Linked DNA regions of Homo sapiens: region 2 is linked to region 1. Evidence: fine-mapped expression QTL. Tissue or cell type: monocytes after LPS. Region 1 holds a variant in brackets; the other region holds the start of a gene. All regions are shown on one strand. Distances are from middle to middle.

Region 1 (5,201 bases):
AGATATTGGCTTTGAGACAATGAATATTATTAAAAATAAATAGAGGCCGGGCGCGGTGGCTCACGCCTGTAATCCCAGCACTTTGGGAGGCCGAGGCGGGCGGATCACGAGGTCAGGAGATCAAGACCATCCCGGCTAAAACGGTGAAACCCCGTCTCTACTAAAAATACAAAAAATTAGCCGGGCGTAGTGGCGGGCGCCTGTAGTCCCAGCTACTTGGGAGGCTGAGGCAGGAGAATGGCGTGAACCCGGGAGGTGGAGCTTGCAGTGAGCCGAGATCCCGCCACTGCACTCCAGCCTGGGCGACAGAGCGAGACTCCGTCTCAAAAAAAAAAAAAAAAAAATTAAAAAAAAAAAAAAATAAATAAATAAATAGAAACCCTTTGGGAAGAAAATGATCCATTTGTGACAAGGTTTCTCGGTCTTGGCACTATTGCTACTTTGGGCTGGATAATTCTTTGCTGTGGAGAGGGGCTGTCCCACGCATTGCAGGATTCTGAGCAGCAACCCTGGCTTCTACCCTCTAGAAGCCAGTAGCACCTCTGCTCCAGTTGTGACAACCCAAATTGTTTCCAGACATTGGCAAATGTCTGGGGGGTGAGGTGGCAGCAAAGCTGAGAACCACTCATCTGTGATAACCAAGAAAATAATCAAGTGTCTGTCTCTATCTGGGAAAGAGGAAGTACAAAAAAGGCAGCTGTTAACACTGAAATACAAGAGTCGCAAACACAAAGTCTGCAGGCCGAAGGGCAGGACGTTCCATGGCTATGACAACCCCACATTCCCAACACACCCATATGCCACAGGGGCCATCAAAATGGGAGAATGGCAGTGCAGCCCCTCAAATGGTGATGTCCCTATTTGCACTAAGCTGATATCTCATCCTTGAGCTCTACCTCACCTCTGAGCCCCACCCCAGAAGGAGTCCTCGGGGTGCACCGTCGATAGCAATTCTCCAAATTACTTTTTTTTTTTAGCCAACAGTTTAATAGTTTGTCTAACATAGTGCCAAATGTTTCTGAATCAAAATGACTGCTTCAGAACGTTGTAAGGCAGCCAGGAAATACTGGGGGAAATGCTCAAGCTTTAATTTAGAAGCCAACACGTTTTATATAACCTCAATTTTCAATTAACCAAAAGCATTGGCTTTAATTCTGGTGCTTACCATCTTAGGCCATTTGCAGATGCGCTAAAGAAGCTGCTCGAATGTGATTTACTTCTCAAGAGGAATGGGATTATGTCCATGTTAAGTTAGAATCTCAAAAAGGAGAAACAGCATTTGATAGCATCCCTGGGTCTTAGGTCACAAGCATAGGTAAAGGTTGGTGCTATTCACAAAACACTGTTTGCCATGTCGGGGGAGGCGCACAGGATAATCAGTTTATAAATATTACATTGAAAGTTTTCATGGACTTTTTGGAAGAGGATGTAAAATTATTCACCCAAACATGACATGGTCTCAGAAACATAATTTTCAGGTTATATTCCTGAGAATTTAAATGCCCTTGTGGGAAATTCTATTTGAAGTTAGGGGGGAAAAAAGCCAAAACAACCACCCAAGAGGAGTGTGCTGTAATAAAAAGGGTGGAGATGAGGAAACCCTTTCCTAACTCAGGTTCAAGGTTTACTCCCGGACCTCTGACATGCTCCTGTTCATCTCTGACATTCACATGGCTTCTGTGCCCACACCATCAGCCCTACAGAGACAGGGTGGAGGGCACGCAGCACCTAGAACAGGAGGGCATGGCCTGCTCCTCGTCAGCACCTGCACAGCCTTTCCTGCCCCAGTGCCCTGGTGTCAGGCTGTTTACTCCCTCTTCACCAACATTCGCTCCTCCCACTCTCCGCCCTGAACTCCCAGGGCTCTGCACTCCTCTGGGCCCCATCATATCCACCATTTGCTGGGCTAGAGGTGCGTGTAGAATCCCCAGGCCTGAACCCTCGTGTTCCTGCTGCCCCCACGTTGGAGCTCAAGGAAGAGATCCCTAGGCAAGATCACTGAGAGTGGTGATTTAAACTATCTGGTCAGGGATCACCAGGCTCTGTTGCCTGTTGCCTTTTCTGGGGTACAACAAGTATTGTCAAGTTGAACTTGAGCTGAAAAGCTCAAATGTGTAGAGCTAGGCTAAGCGTAGCTGTTCCACAGCCCTAAAGGAAGTGATACCTACTGGTTCCAGGGTCTGCCCTTCTTCATTCAGGGCAGGACAGTAGCAGAGGACATGGGTGTCACTTAGGCTAAGTAACTCCGACAGATCAGAATTTTTTCTGCAAATCTTTGGTGAGCACCAAACATGACTGCAGCATTACTCTGACTGTACATCAGGATTACCGTAAAGGTTTTCTAAAATTACGGATGTCTGAACCACCTCTGACACCACCACACACGAATGCGCACACACAGACACACACACACCCATTTCCTGATGCAAAAGCTCCGGGCTCATGGTCCGACCATCTGTACTTTGCAAAGGGCCCAGGAGGTTCTGAGGCACAGAGAGGAAATGCTGTGCTGTCTGACAAAAGACAGAAATAAAACAGACGAATCTGTAGGGCAAAGTTACCACGACTTAAATATGGCTATTCCTTGTGAGCAAAAATTGCCTCACTAAACTAAGTGTACACCAGAGACCCCTGGTTCTAAAACTGGTCAACCCCAGTATTGTTTACTGAGTGACTAAATCAGTGAATGTCTGGATTTGTGCCCCCCAAGCTTTACCTTTTAACTCTTCAGTCTTCTCTTGAAGCTTCAGCTGTATTTGTTCTTTCTGTGTTTCCAGTTCTGAATTATGCTTCTGAAGCTTTGCCAATTTCTAGCAGAGGGAAGGGGGAAAAACAAACTTTTTTGAAAACCTCACTTCAAGTTGTCACCATTGCCTTTCTTCACAAAAAGATGTATATTCTTAAATTAGTTTATTTTTTCTCAGCTCCTGTCTATAGATAACAGCGAGCACCAGCCACTGTAAGACGCTGCCATTTGTTTCACATGCAAGAGCTCAACGTGACTTCAAAGGTGACACTATTCCCGACCTGGCCAGCAATGACTGAAACAAGGAGAAAGGACACATTCAAGGGCTCCTCAATGTCAAGGACATACTTCTTCCTTTTGTCGAGCTTCTCAATAGCCAGGGGACTTTATATGTCGAATATGCTAT[G/C]ATTACACAGTTGATGGCGTAAAGGGGATTCACACTTTGCAACTGTTATGACTCAGGAAGGATGTGTGAGCACAGCAGGATTCCTATCATTTCAACTTCTCCTGGTAAAGTGTCTGCTGGGCTGGCAGCAGGCCCCGTGGTGCTGACTGATGGTGACTGGCAGCTGGCGATGCCCACGGCAGCAGTGTTGGTGCACCCAGCACCGGGTCATGGGGAGGGCAAAGGGATGTCTTCTGGGCCTCCAAGCCACCAACCCTGGGTGCTAGGACTTTGAAAATGCAGCAGAGGCTGGGCACGGTGGCTCACACCTGTAATCCCTGCATTTTGGGAGGCCAAGCGGGGGTGGATCACTGGAGGTCAGGAGTTCGAGACCAGCTTGGCCAACATGGTGAAACCCCACCTCTACCAAAAATACAAAAAATTAGCCGGGCGTCATGGCGCATGCCTGTAATCCCAGCTACTCGGGAGGCTGAGGAAGGAGAATTGCTTGAACCCGGGAGGTGGAGGTTGCAGTGAGCCGAGATTGCGCCACCGCACTCCAGCCCGGATGACAGAGCAAGACTCCGTCTAAAAAAACAAAAAAAAAACAAAATGCAGCAGAGTGGATGATAATAAAGATCACCTTCTTAGAACACACTAGCTCACACTTTTGCAGGGACTCACCATAGGCATTTGGCTACATTATTTCATCTGACCATTTTATTCTCACAACAATTCTGTCAATCTCTTTTTGTTATTCTCATTTTATATAGGAGGAAACTAAAATTCATTATGGTAGGCATTTGGCTAACGTATTTCATCTGATGATTTTATTCTCACAACAATTCTGTCAGTCCTTTTTTGTTATTCTCATTTTTTTATATGAGGAAACTAAAATTCAGAGAGGGTAAGGGACTTTAGCCAAGGCTGCCCAGCCAGACAAAGGCAAGATTTGAATCTAGGGCATCTGGTTTTTATGCTGACTGCTCTTTTCACTACACCAGAGATGAAAACCCTACCCTAGCTTTGCATCGCTGTTCAGGGGAAGACATTTCCAGGGCATAGACCTTAAGGACAAGTGATAGGAGACCAAGGTCATCCTGGAAGAAAGGGAGGCAGCCAGCCAGGGCTCTTTGGGCCTGTCATCATTTTGCAAAACTTGAAAGAAAGAGAAAACCTATGTTGCATTTCTCTCATTATTAACCTCCTCCCTTCCCCTAGACTCTAATCCTCTGATCTCGCCTTTCCTAAAAGGTAGGCTCCCTTTGGTAATGGAAGTTGATAGCAAAATCTGATTTGCTCTGCAGAAATCCACTTCATAGGAAAAGCTGGCAGCGCTCATCTTTTTCACAGAGAGTCCGCATATTTCCATCCCGTCTCACACGCCCGCAGCTGACCTCTTCCACAGCATCCCTGTATCTCTTCCCCTTCTCCTCGTAATTTCGCCTGTGAGTGGCTGCTTTTTCTAGTTCTGCTTCCAGCTTCTGAATCTTTTCCACATCCCCAGCTCGAAGAGCAGCCAGGCTAGTCAGCTTCTCCACCAGCCCATGGTTTTCTTTGTTCTAGAGAAAAGAAAATTCAGATGTTTAGAGGTTAATCCAAACAAAGATGCTGTTCCATTTAATTCTCATAGCCTTTGACACAGCATCCAAATTTGAGAGGTTGCTTTATGCTGATCACACTTATCACTGCACTGACATTTGTTAGCATCTTCTTTGTGGTGAAACAGTATGGCAGATCTTGCTGGGTACACATCTTCCCAAACTGGTGGCTATTTTAATGTGGGAAGTTTCCAATTCTGGCAAACCAGGACAACCCTAGTGTTATGAACTGTGCCCCCCGCCAAAATTCATTTGTTGAAGTCCTAACCCCTGAATTTAGGAATATCGCTGTTTTGAAGACAGGGTCTTTAGAGAGGGAATTAAGGTAAAACCAGCCCTCAGGGTGAGCCCTAGTCCAATAAGATTGGCGTCCTTAGAAGAAAAGGGGATTAAGACACAGACACAGGCATGGAGGGAAGATCATGTGAAGACAGAGGGAGGTGGCAGCCATCTACAAGCTAAGGAGAGA
Region 2 (5,109 bases), 60 kb after region 1:
TCAGACAGGTGGAGTTCGTGTGCCAAGGCACGCAGTGGCAACGTGCAAGCAAGGCATTGAGGGAATGGCAAGGAGTCTGGCAGAGCATGAGCCAGGTAAGAGCAGGAAGGCAGGGAGAGAGGCAGGACCTCGTGGCTGGTCAGTGAGTCTGAAAGCAATGGGAGCCTCTAGAGGTGGTAGAGCAGAGAATGCCAGACCGGCTCTTCTTAAGAGAGATTTCAAATAGGGGAACTGCTGCTCTGAACATTTCTAAGGCATGGCACCTGTAGCTTTTCAAAAGAGATGGATGATTTTACACCTCACCTGGCAGCGATTGCTCCCCTCACCAAGACTTCTCCTGGAGTTCCCTCTTCCCTGTTCCCACAGGGTGGCTTCCAGCTCCCCTGTTAGCTCCTCCTCTGGATGGCTCCATCTCAGCCCTTCTGCTTCCTCTCACTCCTTGCACAGATGCATTCCCCGCTGGCCTGTCCCTCACCCTCTTCTCTGTCTGCCTTCTCCCACCTTGGTGAGACCCTCAGTGTCTTGTTGGCTTCAGTGACCACCTCTGGGCAGAAGACCCTCGGCAGGGCCCATCCCCTCCCTCTGACACCTCCCACCCTGCAAGGCACCTTCCCTTGGAAGCCCCCTCACCCCTTCAACCCCTGCAAATACAGAACTTGCCTGATGACTTTCTTAAGAAATATTTCCTCCTCATGCCACATCCTTAATTCACTCAAGGGCACCACCCTGCTGTCTCTCATACAGACTCTAACCTCAAATGTCATCCTTGGCTGGTCCCTTCAACCCCCACCCCACTCCCCAGTCCAGCCTCTCAGCCTCACCTGCCTCCACCCTCCATGGCCAACACTGCAGCTCTAATTCTTTTCCAACAGCTGGAATGACCTGAGAATTCAGCTACGTGACCCCGGCCTCTCTCCTCCACAGCCCAAGGGCGCTGCTGGCATACATAACAAATCTAACAGTCCTAACACACCACCCTTGATTCTGCCAGCCCCCACTCAAAACCCACACTGGGGAATAAAGCCCTGACCTCGCTCTCTGGCTGCCATGGCCCTCCCCTTCACACCTCCAGAACAGACAAAATGGGGGCTAACTGCCCACCAGGAAGGGAGGTGGCAGCCTAGGAACACAGGTGTCTACGTGGACACAAGGTCAGTGGGAATGGCCATCAGGCTGCGTCAGTCTCTGGGATTCTCAGATTCTCATTCCCTCCAAGCTTGTACCTTTAAACTCCTTCCTATCAGTTTTCTTACATTGTGCCTGGTACTTACTAGACATTTAATAAATATCTGAGGTTTGAGGCACCTAAAAATAGGGGTGCTTGCACCTGTGTGTTTCTGCTTCTGGAAATACTGTCACCTCAAATAGGTTCAGCAGCAGCATTTTTCTCTGTCCTCCAAAGTATCGTCGAAGACTAGTCCAAGACTTTTCTTTCACTTCCAGTAAACTGAAGGCTGAAGAAGCGCTGTTGGCTGTCTGAGGGCTCACAGTCTCACTGGTGAAAATATTCTAGAACAAAACTAGGGCAATTCAAACACTGTCCATTTAGAACTCCAGTTAATGGAGATGCAATAGAGGAGAAACTACAGTTCGGTTGCTTTGTGTCCGGACTGTTACTAAGTAATCAAAGTAGAAGAAAAACGTTTGCTTAAACCATTGAAACATGATTTTTTAAATAACTATCTTTTCTATCTACAGCAAAAGCATCTTTTAAAGTAGAAAGCTAGAGCATGTGTCCGGGGAAATGGATGGATTCTAGTTCCACTCGTCTGAATACTGAGGTCTCTAGATTTCCCCAACTGGTGTATAGGAGGATCAGGCTTTATGGCTATTCAAATGGATTTTTTTTTTCAAAAGTGCTAACACTGTCACACTCTTTATCCAAATAATTACCCAAGCCCATCTCAGAGGGTTTGGGACATATGTGGGAACGCTGCCCTTCCGAGGTAAGAGGTGGAGCCCCAGCCAGCAGAAAGGAAGCTTCTGAGGAATGCTCTAGTGTTTCCCAGAGTCAGGGTATATGAAAGGCGCTTTAGAAACTGTGGTGTTTGTACTGTTGCTAACAGTACAGATGTTAGGCAAAGAGCCTACGACTGCACCTCGTGGCCCCTGGGCTCCCCAAGCGCTTGGTGCCACTGCAGTGCCCTCAAGCCTGTGACCCAGGCTGCTTCAGCTTCTGATGAGCCTACATGCACGTTCACGCACTTTGAAGACACAGAATTCTAGAAAGCAGCCCGAACACTGCGGCCATAAGCTTCTATGCCAGCTCGTTCAAGGGGGTCCCAGGAGGGGCCAGGAGACTGGCCGGCGTCTCAGCTTCCTACGTCCGCATGGGCAACTCTGATTCCACCCGTGGTGTGGTAGGAAGGGACCGAGGCGCTCCAGTCCCGGGAGATGGGGACGCACGCGCGACCCCTGGGCACTGGGGATTCTAGGCCCCGAGGCCGGAGCGGCGGAGGGGGCGGCCCCTCCCACAGGGTCTTCCCACCCACAGGGCACCCAGGCGCAGCGGAGCCAGGAGGGGGCTTACCCGCGGGCAGGGACGGAGCACGCCGGGGCCCTGGAGGGGCGACGCTCGCTCGTGTCCCCGGTCCCCGTGGCCCCTCCGCGGCGCCTCCGCGGCCCCCAGCGCGCGCCCGCCCGCCCTGCCGTGTCAGGTGCGCAGGTGTGGCAGGTGTGGCCCGGGCGCCAGGTCGAGTCAGCGTTAGCAGGGCCGGCTCCCCCACAGCGCTCCCAGGAGCCCAGCGGACCCTCCTACCTGCGTGTACAGCTCGGCCACCGCCATGGGCAGGAGGGGCCGGGGCCAGGCCGGGGCTGCCGAACGTGCGAGGCTCGGGGGCTGGGCCTGCGCCGCAGAGGCCGGGCGCAGGAGAGACCGCCGCGGAAATCACCGCCGGGCCATCTTGCCCAAAGTTTTCCAACGGCCTCCTGTTCCCGTTCCCGAGTTGGCGGCGAGGGGAGGGGGCAGCGGCGGGATTGGTCCCTCCAAGCTTGGCCCGGCTAGTCGGCGCTGCCATTGGCCGGGGCCGGGCGGCTGCACCTGGCGGGAGCGCGGGTGGAGAAGGTTGGGGCCCGGGGCGCGCTGCCAGGCAGGAACAGATGCATCCGGAGGCTGCCCGGCCCGAGTGTTAGCTCCTCAAAGAGCAGAGGATACGACCATTTAAATGGAAGACCCAAGGGAATCAACGTACTGAACACAAAGAAATGTGTTAAGAGTCCAGCAAGGTCATCGTATTCAAAATCAAATACAAAAATAAGTAATGGTCCTTTATATGAGCATTGTCTATGCAATACAAGATATTTACAATATTAGTGAAAATATAAAGTATCCAGAGATTACACTCGCAAAAATGCCCTTGGCCTTTGTGGAGAAAATGTTTAAAATTCTCTTAAAGAGCTTAAAAGAAGGCCCAGGTAAACGGGAGACATGCCATTTTCCTGGCTGGGAATATTTAATATGGTCAAGGTGTCACTTCTACCCAAATCAATATATATGCCTAATATATTGGCGTCAGAATCCTACAGAACTTTTGGAGAATTGTACAATGATTCTATATTTCATATAGAATAAAAGCCCTGTATAACTAAGACAATTCTCAAAGAGGAGAGATTTGTCCTGCCATATATTTAGGGACATAACAAAGCAGTAGTCATTAAAACAGTGTGACACTTGCGTGAGAACGGATACGTGAGTAATGGAACATGCTGGAGCCCCCCAGCAGGGCCCTACATTATACGGTAGCCTTAAGGACCAGATAGGGAAATAAAATAATATTTATTAGATGGGCCCGTTATATGGAAAAACAATAAAAGCAGATCCGTGGCAAACACTGCATCCAAAAATAAGCTCCAGATGGATTCACGATTAAAACTTAAAACCGGGAAATTATTAGGAATAAAAGAGGGATAATATCTTTAAAATGTTGGGTTATAGTAGTTTCCATATAGAAGAATTGTTAATCGGTTAAAGAAAAGAAATCCAATTTTTAAAACTGACAAAAATTAATAGGCAATTCACAGATGGGGACACTTAAATGGCTTGTTAGCATACAAGGAGATGTCAACTTTAGCAGTAATCAGATAAATACAAATGAAAACAACAATGAGATATTGCTTTTTACCCATCATATTGGCAAAAACATTTAGGTTAGACAATCTCAGATACTGCCTAGGATGTGAGAAAATAAAAACTTGGCCGGGCGCGGTGGCTCACGCCTGTAATCCCAGCACTTTGGGAGGCCGAGGCGGGCGGATCACGAGGTCAGGAGATCGAGACCATCCTGGCTAACACGGTGAAACCCCGTCTCTACTAAAAATACAAAAAATTAGCCGGGCGAGGTGGCGGGCGCCTGTAGTCCCAGCTACTCGGGAGGCTGAGGCAGGAGAATGGCGTGAACCCCAGGGGGCGGAGCCTGCAGTGAGCCGAGATTGCGCCACTGCACTCCAGCCTGGGCGACAGAGCGAGACTCCGTCTCAAAAAAAAAAAAAAAATAAATAAAAAAAATAAAAACTTTTTTTGCTTACATAACTGGTGGGAATATACTGCCATCCTGGAGAGCAATTTGAGAATAGTTATGAAAATAAATGTAGGCAGAAAAATTCTCACAGTCACCCAAAGAGACAGTTAAGTAGATGTTCATCACAACATAGTTATTTATCAAAGAGTTGGAAGCATCTAAATATCAATAGGGGAATAAATAAAATAGTATATACATGGCAGACAGCAGAGAAAAATAAAAAAAGAAATAGTATATACATGTAAAACTCTACAGCTGTTAGTAGGAATAGACATGATCTACTTGACTCAGAAATAAAAAACAATGTTGAATAGATGTCTAGCCCAAGTCTTTAATATTTAAAAACTCACAAAAACTGCAATACTGAATATTGTTCATGGGTACAAGTATGTGTGAATAGAGGTAAGGAGGATAAATTACAAAGTCATTCATTAAATATGCAAGAGTGGATACCTATGAGGGAGAGAAATGGAATCGGAGATTTCAAAAAGGGGATCAAAAAATATAAAGAGAGGCCTGGCATGGATCAATAATGATAAATGCCACAAAGAGAGGATCATGGTAAATTTAATTTTGCATTTATTTATATACA

Alleles and levels. Alleles are on the strand shown, and positions count from the first base shown. SD is a standard deviation of normalised expression in the study named.
As copies of G replace C in region 1, the expression in monocytes after LPS of the gene that starts at base 2,953 in region 2 goes up (large effect, 1.1 SD a copy in Quach 2016).

What was found. PIP is the estimated chance that this variant, and not a neighbour inherited with it, causes the effect.
Region 2: MYO5C starts here. The variant in region 1 is fine-mapped to the expression of MYO5C in monocytes after LPS (Quach 2016, PIP 0.95).

Annotation. Positions count from the first base shown.
Region 1 is chr15:52,232,954-52,238,154 of GRCh38, forward strand. It overlaps MYO5C (myosin VC), which reads right to left. Exons shown (of 41, transcript NM_018728.4): 22 at 4,529-4,693; 23 at 2,717-2,810. LOC105370820 (a long non-coding RNA gene) reads left to right here. Exons shown (of 4, transcript XR_007064638.1): 4 at 2,925-4,373. Among named protein-coding and RNA genes, the nearest start is that of MIR1266, 42 kb to the right of the region's middle. The variant G/C (reference allele first, on the strand shown) is at 3,153.
Region 2 is chr15:52,292,852-52,297,960 of GRCh38, forward strand. It overlaps MYO5C (myosin VC), which reads right to left and starts at 2,953. Exons shown (of 41, transcript NM_018728.4): 1 at 2,759-2,953. The coding sequence starts at 2,785. It overlaps LOC105370819 (a long non-coding RNA gene), which reads left to right and starts at 2,033. Exons shown (of 4, transcript XR_932250.3): 1 at 2,033-2,360. RefSeq lists enhancers at 83-132, 1,006-1,175 and a silencer at 2,617-2,776.